Regions from separate parts of the Homo sapiens genome. Here region 2 is linked to region 1. A link means that fine-mapping ties the variant in region 1 to the expression of a gene that starts in the linked region. Tissue or cell type: monocytes. Region 1 holds a variant in brackets; the other region holds the start of a gene. All regions are shown on one strand. Distances are between the middles of the regions.

Region 1 (8,256 bases):
TGGTCTGGAACTCCTGAGCTCAACTGATCCTCCCACCTCAGCCTCCCAAAGTGCTGGGATTACAGGTGTGAGCTACTACACCCCCTGAGTGGTCCTGTCTAAAATGCATCCAGTGGCCAGGCATGGTGGCTCACACCTGTAATCCCAGCACTTTGGGAGGCCAAGGCAGGCAGATTACTTGCGGTCAGGAGTTCGAGACCAGCCTAGGCAACATGGTGAACCCCTGTCTCTAGTAAAAATACAAAAATCAGTCAGGTGTGGTGGCAGGTGTCAGTAATCCCAGCTAGTTGGAGGCTGAGGCAGGAGAATTGCTTGAACCCAGGAGGTGGAGGTTGCAACGAGCCAGGATTGCGCCACTACACTCCAGCCTGGATGACAGAGTGAGACTCCATCTCAAAAAAAAAAAAGTGTCCAGTGCTGGGAGTTGCCCCATAAGAAGAGAGTGGCTGGTGCTCAGTGGAGGTGCTCAAGCTAAGGGTGCCCTGTCCCCTGACCCTAGCCACCCTGACCTTGGCTTCTCAGCTGTCTCCTCAACTCTGGGAGTCTGCTGGGCTCTGCCACCCAGGCTGGAGTGCAGTGGTGAGTTTGATATGGTTTGGATCTGTGTCCCTGCCCACATCTCATAATGAAATGTAATCCTCAGTGTTGGAGGAGGGGCCTGGTAGTAGGTGACTGGATCATGGGGGCGGATTTCTCATGAAGAGGTTAGCACCATCCGCTTGGTCCTGTCCTGATAACAGAGAGTTATCTGCTTGTTTGAAAGTGTGTGGCACCTCCCCCTCACTCTCTAGCTCCTGCTTCGCCTCCGCCCTGAGTAAAAGCTCCCTGATGCCTCCCCAAGAAGATGCTCATGGCCATACTTCCTCCACAGCCTGTAGAACGTTGAGCCAATCAAACCTCTTTATAAATTACCCAGTCTCAGCCAGGCACAGTGGCTCACACCTGTAATCCCAGCACTTTGGGAGGCTGAGGCGGGCTGATCACAAGGTCAGGAGATCGAGACCATCCTGGCTAACACGGTGAAACCCGATTTCTACTAAAAATACAAAAAAAAAAAAAAAAATTATCCGGGCATGGTGGCAGGCACCTGTAGTCCCAGCTACTCAGGAGGCTGAGGCAGGAGAATGGCATGAACCCAGGAGGTGGAGCTTGCAGTGAGCCGAGATCGCGCCACTGCACTCCAGCCTGGGCGACAGAGCGAGACTCTGTCTCAAAAAATAAATAAATAAATAAATAAATAAATAAAAATAAATTACCCAGTCTCAGGTAATTGCCCTTTACAAACCTTATCACAACCTACACTGACCATCTACAACATGTTTGGACTTTCTGACGTGTCTGATACTTCTCTCTTTTCTAGTCATTTTACTTTAGGATAAGAATTTACCACATAATATCCTTTCTTATATAAAATTATTTTATTTTCTTCATATCCTTACCAAAAATACATCTTCATAGCCAAAACTTGTTTTATTACTCTCTCCCCTACCTATTAGTTTCTTTTTATCTTTCTTCATAAATAACTTTTAAACAACTTTCAAATTACATAAAATTATTTTTTCTCTCAATAACACAATTTACAGAATTATATATTAATTAGAATTCCTATTCTTAGTAACCTTAAATTTTAGTGAAAACCCAGGAAGCAAGAAATCTTGAACTATCAGATGTTATTTTGTAAATGAAACAATTCCATAATTTTTAGAAACACATTTTCCCATAGCACAGTCTTTTCTGAATTGGAAATGACCCAGACATCTGTGGGCAGCAAGCCATCCAGGTGCCGAGACAAGAGACCAAGGGCACGAGCTATTCCAGTATAATAAAATATATAAAACAACAAGAGTTATACTAGATCTAGATCACAGACATGATTATATATGAATATCATTAATCATTAGTTTGTAGCAATTGCTCTTTATTCCAATATTATAATAATCCTTGCTCTATAATCATAACCTAGGAAAAACCAGGCCATACAGAGATGGGGGCTGAGGGGACATGGTGAGAAGTGACCAGAAGACGATAGTGCGAGCCTTCTGTTATGCCCAGACAGGGTCACCAGAGGGCTCCTTGGTCTAGCGGTAACACCAGCGTCTGGGAAGATGCCCGTTGCCAGGCAGACCGTGGTCTAGCAGTAGCATCAGTGTCAAGGAAAAACACCTGCTACTTAGGAGTCTCCCTTTCCCTGGGGGAGTTTAGAGAAGACTCTGCTCCTCCACCTCTTGTGGAGGGCCTGACATCAGTTAGGCTCGCCCGCAGTTATCCGGAGGCCTAACCGTCTCCCTGTGATGCTGTGCTTCAGTGGTCACGCTCCTAGTCCGCCTTCATGTTCCATCCTGCACACCTGGCTTTGCCTTTTAGATAACAGTAGCAAATTAGTGAAAGTACTAAAAGTCTATGATAAGCAGAAATAATGGCGTAAGCTGTCTCTCTCTCTCTCTCCCCCTCTCTCTCTGCCTCGGCTGCCAGGCAGGAAAGGGCCCCCTGTCCAGTGGACATGTGACCCACATGACCTTACCTATCATTGGAGATGACTCACACTCTTTACCCTGTCCCTTTTGGTTTGTATCCAATAAATAACAGTGCAGCCAGGCATTCGGGGCCACTACCGGTCTCCGCGTCTTGGTGGTGGTGGTCCCCCAGGCCCAGCTGTCTTTTCTTTTTATCTCTTTGTCTTGTGTCTTTATTTCTACAATCTCTCATCTCCGCACATGGGGAGCAGAACGCACCAACACTGTGGGGCTGGTCCCTACATCCGGCGCTCCAACGTGGGGCTCTCTCTCGCTGTGTGAAGTTGCACCCTGAGTGTGGGATTCAGCAGAGGATTTTGACCAGAGATTCCTGAGGATTGTGGTCAGTAAGCTTGGTGGTAAGCTAGAGCACTCAGAGTATTCCGGGGACACCATGGGACAAGCCAGTACTAAGTACTCAGCTTATTTAAGCTTTATAAAAACCCTCCTGTTTTATCTCAACCCTGTCCCTGTTCAGCCCTGCTGTAGGGGTCTCAACCTTCTGCCTGTTCCGCCCGGTAATGAGGCCCTCAACCCTATCCCTCCATAGCCTGGTTTTCTCATGCCTGTTTCCTTTCCTCCTAATCAGACTCGGTTAGAGTCACAGGCTCCCTTGAAACCTGGTTCCTTTCCTACTAATCCGACTCCCCTGGAGTCACAGACTCCTTTGAAGCCTGGTCCGCAGTTGCCACAGCAGCCTGAATTTCAGGCCCATGAAGGACGTGCTCGGCAGGTAATCTCGTCTACCCTTGCTGCTCACAAGCAACAAGTTACATAGATTCCTCAAAATGACACTCCTCTTATGAGGGCTATAGCACAGGCAAGAAAATATGGGGATCCCAACGCCTGGCAATTTCCTGTAATTTTACAACCTCCAATACCTGCCGTCCCTGCGGCACAAAATCAGCCACAGCCTGCTGATCTTACTCAGCAGGCAGCTGATCTCGCGGCACCTTCACGCTCCGTGTTAATATCTTGTTTTTCTGCAGGACAACAAACAGTTGCAGCAGCCGGTTTGGTTACTGCGCCCCCTCCACAAAAAAAAAATCCAGACTTCTTCTCCTTATCACTATTTAGCAATGCAGCTAGAAGTCAGGTTATTAAGCCCAAAAAAATCATTGTTCCCCTCACCCGATTAGAAGTTCAACAGGCTTTTGCAACCTGTATCACTTGGCAAGTACACTTGGCAGGTTTCTCGGGTATAATTGACAATCACTATCCTAATGTAAAATTATTTCAGTTCCTTAAACTCACTTCTTGGATTTTACCTAACATTACTAGAAACACCCCATTAGCTGAAGCTGTCACTGTTTTTACTGATGCTTCCTGTAATGGCCGAGCAGCATATACAGG[T/G]CCCAGAGAACGTGTTCTTAACACAGGGGCTATTTCAGCACAACGAGCTGAACTGCCTGCTGTTATGACCGTCTTTGAAGATTTCCCTGAACCAGTTAACATTGTCTCTGACTCAGCGTATGTAGTACATGTTGCTCGCAACATTGAAACTGCCTTAATCCAATTTCTGCCCGATGATAACCTATTCTTTCTTTTTCAAAGGTTTCAGTCTGTGCCCAGAGCAAGGTCTTCTCCTTTCTACATTGCTCACATTCGGGCCCACACACCCCTCCCCAGACCCCTCTCGGCAGCAAATGCCAGAGCTCATACATTAGTTCCTCCCGTTTTTACAGATGCAGAAAATTTTCATGCTTTAACACCTGTCAATGCTGCAGGACTCCGGAAAAAGTTCCCCTTACATGGAAACAAGCTAAAACCATTGTTCGTCACCGTCCTACTTGCCAAGTGTTAATCTTACAGCCACTTTCCTCAGGAGTTAACCCTAGAGGACTTTCACAGAATGCTCTCTGGCAAATGGACGTGACTCATTATCCTGCTTTTGGCAAGCTTTCTTTTATACATGTAACTATCGACACTTTTTCTCATTTTATCTGGGCCACTTGTCACGCAGGGGAAAGTACAGCTCATGGTAAACGACATATGCGTTCCTGTTTCTCCGTTATGGGCTGTCCCGAGAAACTGAAAACTGATAACAGCCCCAGCTACACTAGTGCTGCTTTTAAAAAGTTCACTGAGACGTGGGCAATTGCTCACACAACCAGCATCCCCTGTAACTCTCGAGGACAGGCCTCGGTGGAACGAGCCAATAAAACACTGAAAGGTCAACTTCGAAAGCAGGACATAAAACAAAGGGGGATGGCACCACACCTCATGCTCAGTTAAACCTGCCTCTTTTTACACGAGCTTTCTTACACCCAGCAAGAAACCAAACTTTACAGCCACAGAACCACATGTCACTGGAAATAAATTTGATCCACAAAAACGAATGCGGGTATGGTGAAAGGACGCAAAAACTAACAAATGGGAATTAGACAGAGTCATAACTTGGGCTAGGGCTTTCGCTTGTGTTTCCCCAGGAAAAGGACAACAACCCGCGTGGGTTCCCTCCCAGCGACTGAAATTGCATTATAACTCCAAGGATGAGGCACTCTGAGAAACAAAAGGACTGCCAGCCTGCTCCAAGAAACCTACAAAGGGGCCTTTTTTCTTTTTTTAACTAAATTCAATCTTATGAAATGATTCTAATACTCCGAAGGCCATACTGTTCCAAACCCTACCTACGGGTGTTGTTATTGACTGGGCTCCAAAAGGGCATTATTGGCGAAATTGCTCCACCCAAAATACAAAATGCTCGGAGTTTAACTATTTGTTAGATTATATAGAGGATGGGCCGGGCACAGTGGCTCATGCCTGTAATCCCAGCACTTTGGGAGGCCGAGGCGGGTGGATCACAAGGTCAGGAGATCAAGATCATCCTGGCTAACACAGTGAAAACCCGTCTCTACTAAAAAACAAAAAATTAGCTGGGCGTGGTGGCAGGCGCCTGTAGTCCCAGCTACTCGGGAGGCTGAGGTAGGAGAATGGCGTAAACCCAGGAGGCAGAGCTTGCAGTGAGCCAAGATCGCGCCACTGCACTCCAGCCTGGGCAACAAAGCAAGACTCCATCTCAAAAAAAAAAAGAAAGAAAAGAAAAAAGATCATATAGAGGATGGATGGCAGTCATACAGGTTGAGACAATGGGTGTCTCCTTACCCATTTAAATGGATGGACGCAGGCATTGTTCCCCCTACACCAAAAATGATTCATCCCATTGTTACCCCAGAACATCCTGAATTATGGAAATTGCTGCAGCTATGACAGGAATAAGGATACGGAACACTACCTATCAACTCCTTCACACTAATACCAAAACACACACATTCAACATCACCTTGATATCTGAACAGGTGATACCCATCAGGAGCTGTGTCAAACCCCCTTACATGCTGTTGGTTGGAAATATAATTATCATTCCCAGTACACAAACTGTAGAATGTGATAACTGTCAGCTGTTCACATGCATTGATGCTACTTTCATTCCCACTACAAGTATTCTCTTGGTACGGGCTAGGGAGGAGGTATGGATACCAGTTTCTCTACATCGTCCTTGGGAGTCTTCCCCCTCTATTCACATAGTCAATGAAGTTCTTAAAGTTATCCTCAAAAGAACAAAGAGATTTATTTTTACTCTTATTGCCGTCATTGCAGGTCTAATTGCAGTTACTGCAGCAGCAGCAGCTGCTGGAGTTGCCATCTACAATTATGTTCAAACCGCTCAATATGTTAAAGCACGGCAGAAAAACTCCTCCGGACTTTGGAATTCTCAGGCTCAAATTGATAAAAAATTAGCCAATCAAATTAATGATCTCCGTCAAAGTGTAATGTGGCTCAGAGACAGAGTTATGAATTTGGAACACCTTATGCAATTACAGTGTGATTGGAATACTTCTGACTATTGCATAATGCCTTATGCTTATAATAAAGGTCAACATAGCTGGGAAAAGGTCTCAAGACATTTAAAAGCCTGGGATGATAACTTAACCTTGGATATTTCAAAACTTAAAGAGCAAATTTTTGAGGCTTCACAAGCTCATTCATCCACTGTTCCTGGCTCAGACATTTTTGAAGGAATAACTAAAGAATTATCTGATCTTAATCCCTTTAAATGGATCAAACCCCTTGGAGGATCATTGTTGTCACTGGCATTATTAGTATTGGTATGCTTATGTTGTCTCCGTTTAGTCTGCAGATGCCTCCAAGGAGTCCGAAAACAAGTCCGAAGTCAATGACAAGCAATGATGGCGATGGTGATCCTAGTTAATATAAAGGGGGGAGATGTGGGCAGCAAGCCACCCAGGTGCCGAGGCAAGAGACTGAGGGCACGAGCTGTTCCAGTATAATAAAATATATAAAACAACAAGAGTTATGCTAGATCTAGATCATAGACATGATTATATATGAATATCATTAATCATTAGTTTGTAGCAATTACTCTTTATTCCAATATTATAATAATCCTCGCTCTATAATCATAACCTAGGAAAAAGCAGGCCATATAGAGATGGGAGCTGAGGGGACATGGTGAGAAGTGACCAGAAGACAAGTGCGAGCCTTCTGTTATGCCCGGACAGGGCCACCAGAGGGCTCCTTGGTCTAGCGGTAACACCAGCGTCTGGGAAGATGCCCGTTGCCAAGCAGACCGTGGTCTAGTGGTAGCGTCAGTGTCAAGGAAAAACACCTGCTACTTAGCAGACCGGGAAAGGGAGTCTCCCTTTCCCCGGGGGAGTTTAGAGAAGACTCTACTCCTCCACCTGCATCTGTAAAAACGGGAGTAACTAATGTATCAGCTCTAGCATTTGCTGCGAGAGGGGTCCGGGGAGGGGTGTGTGGGCCCAAATGTGAGTAATGTAGAAAGGAGAAGACCTTGCTCTGGGCACAGACTGAAACCTTTGAAAAAGAAAGAATAGGTCATCATCAGGCAGAAATTGGATTAAGGCAGTTTCAATTGTTGTGAGCAACATGTAGTACCTACGCTGAATCAGAGACAATGTTAACTGGTTCAGGGAAATCTTCAAGGACGGTCATAACAGCACAAATCTCATCTTGAATTGTACTCCCATAATTCCCACAGGTTGTGGGAGGGAGAAGGTGGGAGGTAATTTGAATCATGGGGGCAGTTTCCCCCACACCGTTCTCAAGGTAGTGAATAAGTCTCATGAGATCTGATGGTTTTATCAGGGGTTTCTGCTTTTGCATCTTCTTCATTTTCTCTTGCCACCGCCTTGTAAGAAGTGCCTTTCACCTCCCGTCATGATTCTGAGGCCTCCCCAGCCATGTGGAACTGTAAGCCCAATTAAACCTCTTTTTCTTCTTAGTCTCAGGTATGTTTTTATCAGCAGTGTGAAAATGTACAAATACACCTAGTGAGGAGAGGGGCAGCCTATCTTGCTACTTTCTGACAACCAGATGGACCTAGTCTTGGCCATTGGGATGCAGACTGTGCCTAAGCACCCTCAGAGGGGGGTGCAACACTAAACAGAGACACAAACACAAATAGATCCAATGTAGACACAGCCCTCCAAACAGATCCCTCCAAACAGAGGGGAGATTGGAGCAAAGTCCTGAGGTCCTGTCCCAGACCCAGACAGCACCATGGAGTGACCTGCGTTAGGTCCAGATGGCACAGAGACCCAGGCAGCACCACAGAGTGACCTGCGTTAGGTCCAGATGGCACAGAGACCCAGGCGGCACCACAGAGTGACCTGTGTTAGGTCCAGATGGCACAGAGACCCAGGCGGCACCACAGAGCGACCTGCGTTAGGTCGAGATGGCACAGAGACCCAGGCGGCAC
Region 2 (8,000 bases), 32 kb after region 1:
ACAGGGGCCTGCCCAGGGCCACACAGCTCTGCACACTGCTCCCACGGAGGAAAGCAGCCGGGAGGATCCCACCCCGGGGGGCTGCCAGGGAGGTGGGCTCGGTTTGTCCGCTGAAGGAACCCCTCATCCTGGCCTTCACAAGGGAAGGGGCTGGGCCCTGGGAGAGAGGAGGCTGTAGCTGGGGGCTCCAGGCCGCAGGGCCCAGCCTGGGTGTGTCCTGCAGCTCCTGCTGAGGCTGGGCCCAGGCCTCCCAGCCACGTGTGCCCAGCTGTTTGTAGGTCCTTTGAAGGGCTGTGTGCCAGGTGTTTGTGCGCCCCCGTGTGGGGCCGATGACAGCTGTGCACCTGGTGTCTTCGTGTGCCTGGCTGCCAGCGCGTGTGCCCTGTGCGCTGTGTGTGCCGCAGGGTCCGTGTCTGTGGGGGGGTCCATGTGTACAAGGGGTGTGTCTCCAGGCCTGTGCTCTCACGTGTGCGGCCAGCCCCCCGCGTGCATGCGGGGCAGCATTTATTTGCACTTGTGCACATAGTAGCCTGTGAGGTAGCCCAGGATGAAGATGATCCAGAAGAGGGCCACGCCGCCCAGCACCTTCATGGCGATGCCCAGCTTGCCCGTGCACAGCCTCTGGGAGATCCTGGGGTGAGAACCAACTGGAGGTGAGCCCCAGGCCAGGGCCGCATGAGGGGCCCCCTAAGTGGACTGTGGCCGTTGGTCTGGGTCAGGGGGAGGGGCCTGGGCGCTCTGCTGGAGTCAAGAGGAAGCTCTCCCCGCCCACAGCCAACCAGAGGGAAGGCCAAAGGCTGCGGTTTGCTGAGCTGCTGGACCGTGGGCTCCCAGCCAGGATGGGGTGGAGGGTGATGGGGCCGGTAGCAGGGGTTAGGGCAGGCGTCTCTGGAGGGAGACACCAGCCTGCTATGGCTGGCAGGCTGCCCTCAGGCCCCTCACCTGCGGCAGCGTGAGGCCTCTTCTGTGCTGGACACAGCCCCTAGGCTGACTCCGTCCCTGCTGCCGTCCTCCCACCTACTATAGTGGACGTGGCTCTCCTGGGGCTGCATGCTGTGGGGCTGCAGCGGGAGGGGCGGGGCCTTCTCGGTGGGGAGATCAAGACAGGTGGCCAGGCTGTGGCTTCACTGTAAAACAAGCGGATGGAGGGCGGCAGTCAAGACCCCCTCTGAGGCTGCTGTTAGGAGAGGGGCACTAAGGGTCGGGGGCTGACTCCCTCACCGGGTCTGTCGCCTGACTTAACAGGTGACCTAGACACAAAGTGGTAGAGTCATTTGCCCAGGGTCAGGCCGGGAGGATGGGACCAAGCGAGAATTCCATCTCAGGCCAAGCCCTGACCTCAGGCATGTGGGAGGCCAGTGTTTCCTTCCAGCACACTCCAGGAGCCTCCCTTCCCCGGTGCTTTTATCAGGGAGCCTGCACAGCCTGCCACCCTCAAGAGACGAGGACATTGTGGCCCAATCTAGGCTGCAGCCCCTGATAACTGTCCCCCTCCTTAACCCTGCCCGATAAGGCGCCTTCTGGCCTCTGGGGAGGCTGGCCAGGGGAGGGGGGGGTGGGGCAGGGCAGCAGGTCCGGGGCAGCGGCTGGTACAGCTAGACCGGTCCCTGTCTGGGGAGGATGCGTGGCTGGCCCCAGGCAGTGGCAGCAGCTGTGTCCTCAGCCTGTGTGGGTTGCAGCCCCTCCCCCACCCACACCTCTAGGAGGGCTGGGGCTTGGGGGGCATGATGCACTGAGCACGGGGCCGGGGTGGATTCAAGGCCTTGGGGAGGCCCTACAGAGACAGGAGGGTCGTAGGGCTGGGTGGCTGCCCAGAGCAGGAGGGGCCCGGCCCCAAGGCCAGCTCCCTGCTGGGCTCCAACTCCTGCAGACCTGGGACTCATCTTTGCATCTCGGCACTCAGCTCGGTGCCTGGCAGCCCAAGTGCCCAGAGGGGCGAGGAGACCACGGGGACTGAGCAGGAACTCCAAGCACTAGCACAGCTGCCCGGCCGGCCTGAGCCAGCCCGGACTCTAAGCACCTCCTTTACCCTCTGGCCTCTGTTTCGACCTCCTATTTACCTAAGGGGGTGTGGGGGTGGAGGAGTTGGAGGGGGCACGAGAAGTTGACAACCCACCCAGGCTGTGGGACTGGGGTCAGCTCTCTGGTCTGCTGGGCCCCCAGTGTCCCCTCTCAGCATCTGGCCCCCAGGAGTGGGGTCCTCGGGCAGGCAATGGCAGGCCCCTCACTTCTAGGAGCTGAGGCTTTGCTGGGCCCCCTCCAGCGGGGAAGGCTGACCTTCCTCCCAGGTCATCGGCACAGAGGCCTAAAGGCACAGCAGCCACTCCCCTGCAAGAAGCCAGCTCAGAAACTCAGGCCCCAGGCAGTTCTGAGACTCCCGGCACTTCCATGTCTGCCTTCCCCCAAAGCCCAGAGAGGCAGAAGGAGCTGTCTCAAAGCCATAAAGTGTGCCTTCGGTGGGAGCCCTGGCTCAGTGCAGCCTGGCACTCAGGCCCGGAGAGGCCCAGCCTCTACTGGAGTATGGGTGCTGTTTTCCCGGAGCATGTGGAGCGGTCAGCTGCCTACCCGAGGTTCACGCCCTCTTGCCTGGTGTGCAGAATCCCATTCTGGTCCCAGCAGCAATGTGCCAGCCCCAGGTAACAGCCATGACCCGGGTAAGACAAGCTTAATACCACCACCCCTGCTTTCCCAAGTCACCCAGCTGGGGTCCAGGAGCCAGGGTGCAGCAGGGGATGGGAGAGTTTGCTTCTGTGAAAGCAGCAGCAGCCACCTCCTTCTTCCAGACTCGACGTGATGGCTGGAGCTGCTGGAGCTGCAGCAGCCGCCTTGCAACCCGACATCCACGCAGCATTAGTCTCGGGAGTGCTGAGGCTCCAAGTCCACAGCAGCAGCCCACCATGGGCCTCCCGGTGGGAGGGGTCAAGCCCAGTGTGTTCAACTCTGGGATCATGGGTTCCTGTCTTGCTGACGTAGAACACGTTGTTCCCAAGTCACCCCGGTGCACAGCCACCAGAGCCGGCCCTTGAGGCTGGCCTCCCTCACTTGCTCAGTAAACGTCTCTCCACACTCATGTGATGGTCACAGGTGTGGCGGCAGGAACCCATCAGGGACTCCCCTCCAGGCCCTGGGAGGCTCCCGGATCCTGGCACCTCCTGGGGGCTTGTGAGTGCAGGAAGGCCCTAGGTACACAGGCGCCCCTCCATAGACCTCTTCACCCCACAGCGCCTCAGGGCCCCACACTTACCCGGAGAACCTTGCCTGAGGGCTGGGGCCTCTGGGCCAGGTTGCGGTCAGGGCCTGGCCAGCGGCCCGCACCTCCCAGCGGGGCAGGTCGTGGGCTGAGGTGCGGCAGACGCCTCGAGCCTAAAAAAATAAAGGTGACCGGAGAAGCCGATCTTGCTAAGGGCCGGGAAGGGAAAGTGGCTGGTGTCGGGGGTCCCCAGCAGCCACAAGGAGCCGGGCAAGGAGCCGGGCGGGCAGTTCCGGCCCTGGCCCCGCACCGCGGGTTAGGCCGGTGGGGGTCAGTCCAGGGCACGCCCCCACCCCCGCCAGTTCTCAGCCAGCGAGGCCGCGCACAGTCGCACCTGCCCACTGCGGCCGCACCGGGAAGCCGCAGCCCGGACCCCGCGCGCCTCACCTGTGTCCCCGCGTCTCTGGGCTCCGCAGGGGCCGGGCCTGGGCAGGGGGCGAGGGCGGGGGCGGGGCCACGCGGGGAAGGGCTGGAGCCAGCAGCGGGGAGGTGTCTGGTCCGGAAGGTGGCGGGGCTAGAGTGGTGGGCGGGGCCATGCGGGGAAGGTCTGGGGCCAGTAGCGGGGAGGCGCCTGGTCCAGAAGGGGCCGGGGGCGGGGCGAGAGGGGGCGGGGCGAGAGGGGGGCGGGGCCATGCGGGGAAGGGCTAGGGCCGCAGCGGGGAGGCGCCTGGTCCAGAAGGGGCTGGGGGCGGGGCGAGTGGGGCCGGGAGACGCCTCGTCCGGAAGGGGCCGGGGCTCTAGGCCGCCCAGCCCCGGGGCCAGGAGGTGCAGGGGGGCCGGGCAGGGTCTGCAGAGGGCTGCACTTTCTGCCCCCAGACGGCTCGCCCTTGGGGCCTCCAGGGTCCCCGACCTCCTTCACCCCTGCTGGAGCCCCTCCGACGCCACGAGCCTCCCAGCCCCGCGGGGACCCGGCTGCAGCGCCGACGAGACTGCGGGAGGCTCTGGGCGCGTCTGGGCCTGAATGCTGGGTTCGGGGACCCGGCCGCGGGGACCGTCCTCCTCCGGGGCTTGAGGGGCGTGGCGCCCGCACGTGGCCCACGCTCGGTGCTCGCGGCGGGAAGGGAAGCAGGTGTGGGTGGGGAGCAGAGAAGGGTAATGGGGAGAGTCCCTTCCGAAGGTGTTCAGGCGCCCAGAGCCTCAGAGGCGCCGGGGAAGCGTCGGGGACCACAGACACCGTTCCCGTGCGTAAAGCTTTCCTTCCAGGAGCGGGGGGATGGGAACAGAGCCCCCCACCCTCACCATCTTCCAGAGGGGTCCTCCAGCAAGAGAGTGCCCCAGCCAGGAGAGCCCCCAGGGCAGAAGGTCACAGACCCCTTCTGCTCAGGCGTGAGGTCTGTGCTGAGTGCTGGGCGGACACCCCGGCTCAGGCCTCTGGCAGCCTGGTGCCGCAAGGGGACCTGTTAGGAGCTAGGGGCACAGGCTGGTGTGCTGACTCCCTGTGAGTGAGCTTTGGAATGGGGAGTGTCCTTGTAGCTCAAGGTCGCAGAGGAGAGTAGGCCCCCGCGTGGATCCCAGAGAAGAAAAAGGTGGGACAGTGCCAACACCGGGGTTTAATTCTGAGTCTGAGAGCAGGACGCATGGTGGGGGCGGGTGGTTCTGGAGCTGGGCCCCGGCCTCTGCTGGGCTGACCGTATTTGGGGGCCTGGCTGGGCCTACTTGGAGGTCCCCTTCTTGGATTTGCTGGTCAGGAAGGCCTCTGACTGTTGCAGGGGGGGCACTTTGACGCCTTTCTGCTTCAGCTGATTATAGTAGTCGCTTCTCTCTGAGATAATTCTCTACACAAGAAACACAGCCGTCGAGGTGGCCTTCCCAGTTCCTCACCTTGGCCTTGAGGCCGGTCTGCACAGTCCGTGCCAGCTGCCCGGGACGCCACCCTCTCCTCCTCCTCCAGAGAGGCTTGCTGCAGCAGGGGTGTGCTGGTGAATACTTACAACCGGCTCTCCAGGGGGAGAAAAAACAAACAACCCTCGGCTTTGTGGCGTTGCCAGTTTCTGTGGTGGGAATATTCCCACAGTGGCTGATTTTCAGCCACGGAAGTGAAGTCACAGAATGCGGAGCCGGGGGCAGGTGCACACCACCAGCCCGCAGAAGCCTGCACTAAGCCCCCTCTTCAGCCCTCTTAGAGTTGTGAGGAGCCCCAGACTCCTAGAGATCTTTGAGGTCGTCACATCTGTCCCTCAAGTCCCTTCTGTCCTGTACAGAGGGAATGTTGTCCCCACCTCTCTTCCATTCTCCTCTCTGGGCCGTTGCTGGTTCATGTCAGGCTATGGCAAGCAAGCAAAGGTGCTCTTCCCTGGCTACTGTGCGGTGGGAATAACTCCCTCCATCCTCTGTCTTCCCTCTTCTCTTCCTCTTTCTCTCCCCTTCCTCCTCCCCTCCCCCAGACAACAGTACCAAGGCCGCAGAGACCTCTCTCCACATTACAGCTCTGCAGGAGAGGCACTGTCCAGGGCCCCCCACTCTGCAGAGGAAGGGAACCAGGCCCCAGGAACGTGGGTGCTGGAAGGTCAGGGGCACACACTGGGGTTCAAGGGCAGCCCCAGAGGGTGAAGTGTGGGTCTTGGGAACAAAAGCAGCTCCTGGTGAGAGGTGACCCCTTCGTAGTACACAGCCCCACACAGAGCCATAGCCGGTGCCCGGCTCCCAGAGCTCTGAGTCTTACGACACCTTGCAGGTGAGCATGCGCTGTCCATCACAGAGGGAGGCATCTATGGCTCAGAAAAGTGAGTGTGTGGCCCCCAGCTGGTGGGTGGTGACCCCCTCATGCCCAGTGACCCCAAGGCCTGAATTCTCCTACACCCCTCTACTTCTCCGAGGCCCTTGCTTGGGGACCCCTGGTCAGGAAGGAGCCCAGGAGGCTGTGGCCGGGGTGGGAGGGGTCTGCACCAGGGCCCTGGATCAGTGGGTGGTGATACCAGCGGAGGGGACCAAGCTGGACAAAGCCGGGGCTGGGCTCCTGCTGTGGGAGAATCTTCGTGCCCTGAGCGGCTTGTCCCCTCTCCACAGCGCTCAGGATGGGTTGTGGCAGTTACTGCTGGTCTCTGATGCCCGTCCCCCGTTTTGCTGAGAGTAGCTAAGACTCCCGTGCCATGCCCCCACCTGCCTTAGGATGATTTGATCCCCTCTGCCTGAGCTGAGAGAAAGGAGGGTCCTGGGGTCCAAGTGAATAGGTGACACAGGTAGGATGAGAACAGAGTCCCTGGAATCTAGGCCCCCCACAACCCCCTACCACAGCTCTGGCCTGGGGGTCTGGGGCCCGGATAGAGGCAGCTGAGCTTAGGGGTATACCTGCAGGGCTTCCAGGATGTCATTGTCAGAGATCTCGTTGGCCAAGGACTTGGTCCCGGAGATGCTAAAGGTGGCCTGGATGATCTTATTCCTTAACCTCTCGAGCTGTGAGCAAAGGGACAACACTATCATTCGCCTTTACCCAAGAAGGCACCTGGCCAGTGGGCTGCACCCCCCACCACCTTATTTTTTATGTACCAGGAAGGAACAGCTCACCCTCACTTTTCATGGCTTTAGAAACTGGAAACAGGTGTCAGAGAAGTCAATGTGGATTGTCTGAGAGCTAGGAGGTGCCGGATCCAACCCCTGACCCTGTGCGGCCCAGCCCCAAAGCCCAAAGACTCTCCTACACCAGGTGGGCTTTTCTAATTGGAAAGTAAAACCTACACACACATATATATATATTTTTAAACCAACAAACCAAAATAGTACAGAAGCCGCACGTAACCCCTGGACCATCCTCCACTGCCCAGGGGAGCTGCAGTGAGCGGACTTCCTGGCCCTTGGGGACACTCTCACTTTAGGCATTTAACAGTGCGCTGCTGGTGCTTCCTCCTTTCCATGCTGACTAGGAGGTGTCTGTGCCATGGACAGCAGCGTTGAACCTGGCCCCCGCGCACAGACCCAGAAGGCGTTCTCGTCTTCTGCTGCCATGAAGATCCTTGTCTGCCTGTACACCCGCAGCCGCCTCCCCAGAGGTAGCTAATCGTGCCTCCCAGGAAGCTGCAGAGGAAACCCCTCCAATCTGCACCCCAGGAGCCTCAGACAGGAACCCCTTGAGTTATGCGGCACGCTCAGCACGAGTTCCTCGTCCAGAAACCCTGACGACGCAGAGGTGCCCCACAGGAGCTGGGCCCGAGAGGCTCAGCCTTGCCTCCGAGTGGAAGCATGTCCACACTGCCGCTCGGACAGGTTTAAGTGACAGCAGGAATGTCATGGGCCCCTGGCCTGTGTGAGGAGTGGAATCCTTTCCTTCTTTCCAGTATTTATTGAGCGCCCAACTTTGTACAAACACCGTGCCAGGTGCTGGAGGTCGTGAGGTCACAAGGGGCTGGGCCTCTGTACTGGGGGTCCCTCCCCAGGGTAGAGGTTGGCAGCTACCCGGGGTGTCCAGCCTCACTTCCCCACACCCGTGGGGCCTCACCATCAGGCTTGGCGCTAGTTCCTGCTCACCCGGACTTAGCTTCACAATATTTCTCAGCTCAGCTTTCCAGGCTCCACCAGGTCAGTGCAGGCTGGCGCACAAATGGACACACCTAGACCGCCTCTGGTCTAACGCTTTCACCAGGACTACGGCTGGATCCCAAACTGTTTTATCAAGGGATACCAGGGGTGGGTGCCTCAGTCTGACCCAGCCGGAAGGAGGTGGACTCAAGCAGGAAAGAGGACGCAGTTGAGTTGCAGTTGGCATTTCTGGTGGGAACCTGACTTCAAAAGCCTCCATACATGACCTTGACCTTTG

Direction of the effects. Positions count from the first base shown, and alleles are read on the strand shown. Sizes are in standard deviations (SD) of each study's normalised expression.
As copies of G replace T in region 1, the expression in monocytes of the gene that starts at base 3,677 in region 2 goes down (large effect, 0.83 SD a copy in Fairfax 2014).

Evidence for each region. PIP is the estimated chance that this variant, and not a neighbour inherited with it, causes the effect.
Region 2: it holds the start of SMIM1, and the variant in region 1 is fine-mapped to the expression of SMIM1 in monocytes (Fairfax 2014, PIP 0.95).

The regions. Positions count from the first base shown.
Region 1 is chr1:3,800,434-3,808,689 of GRCh38, reverse strand. No RefSeq gene overlaps it. Among named protein-coding and RNA genes, the nearest start is that of LRRC47, 8.1 kb to the right of the region's middle. The variant T/G (reference allele first, on the strand shown) is at 3,867.
Region 2 is chr1:3,768,426-3,776,425 of GRCh38, reverse strand. SMIM1 (small integral membrane protein 1 (Vel blood group)) reads right to left here and starts at 3,677. Exons shown (of 4, transcript NM_001288583.2): 1 at 3,638-3,677; 2 at 3,245-3,363; 3 at 943-1,127; 4 at 470-631. The coding sequence starts at 1,052. The coding sequence ends at 505. CCDC27 (coiled-coil domain containing 27) reads right to left here. Exons shown (of 12, transcript NM_152492.3): 11 at 6,539-6,643; 12 at 4,781-5,025. The coding sequence ends at 4,903. RefSeq lists enhancers at 775-834, 750-1,265, 1,414-1,558, 2,298-2,813, 2,814-3,329 and 1 more, cis regulatory regions at 1,462, 1,454-1,470 and a silencer at 3,391-4,270.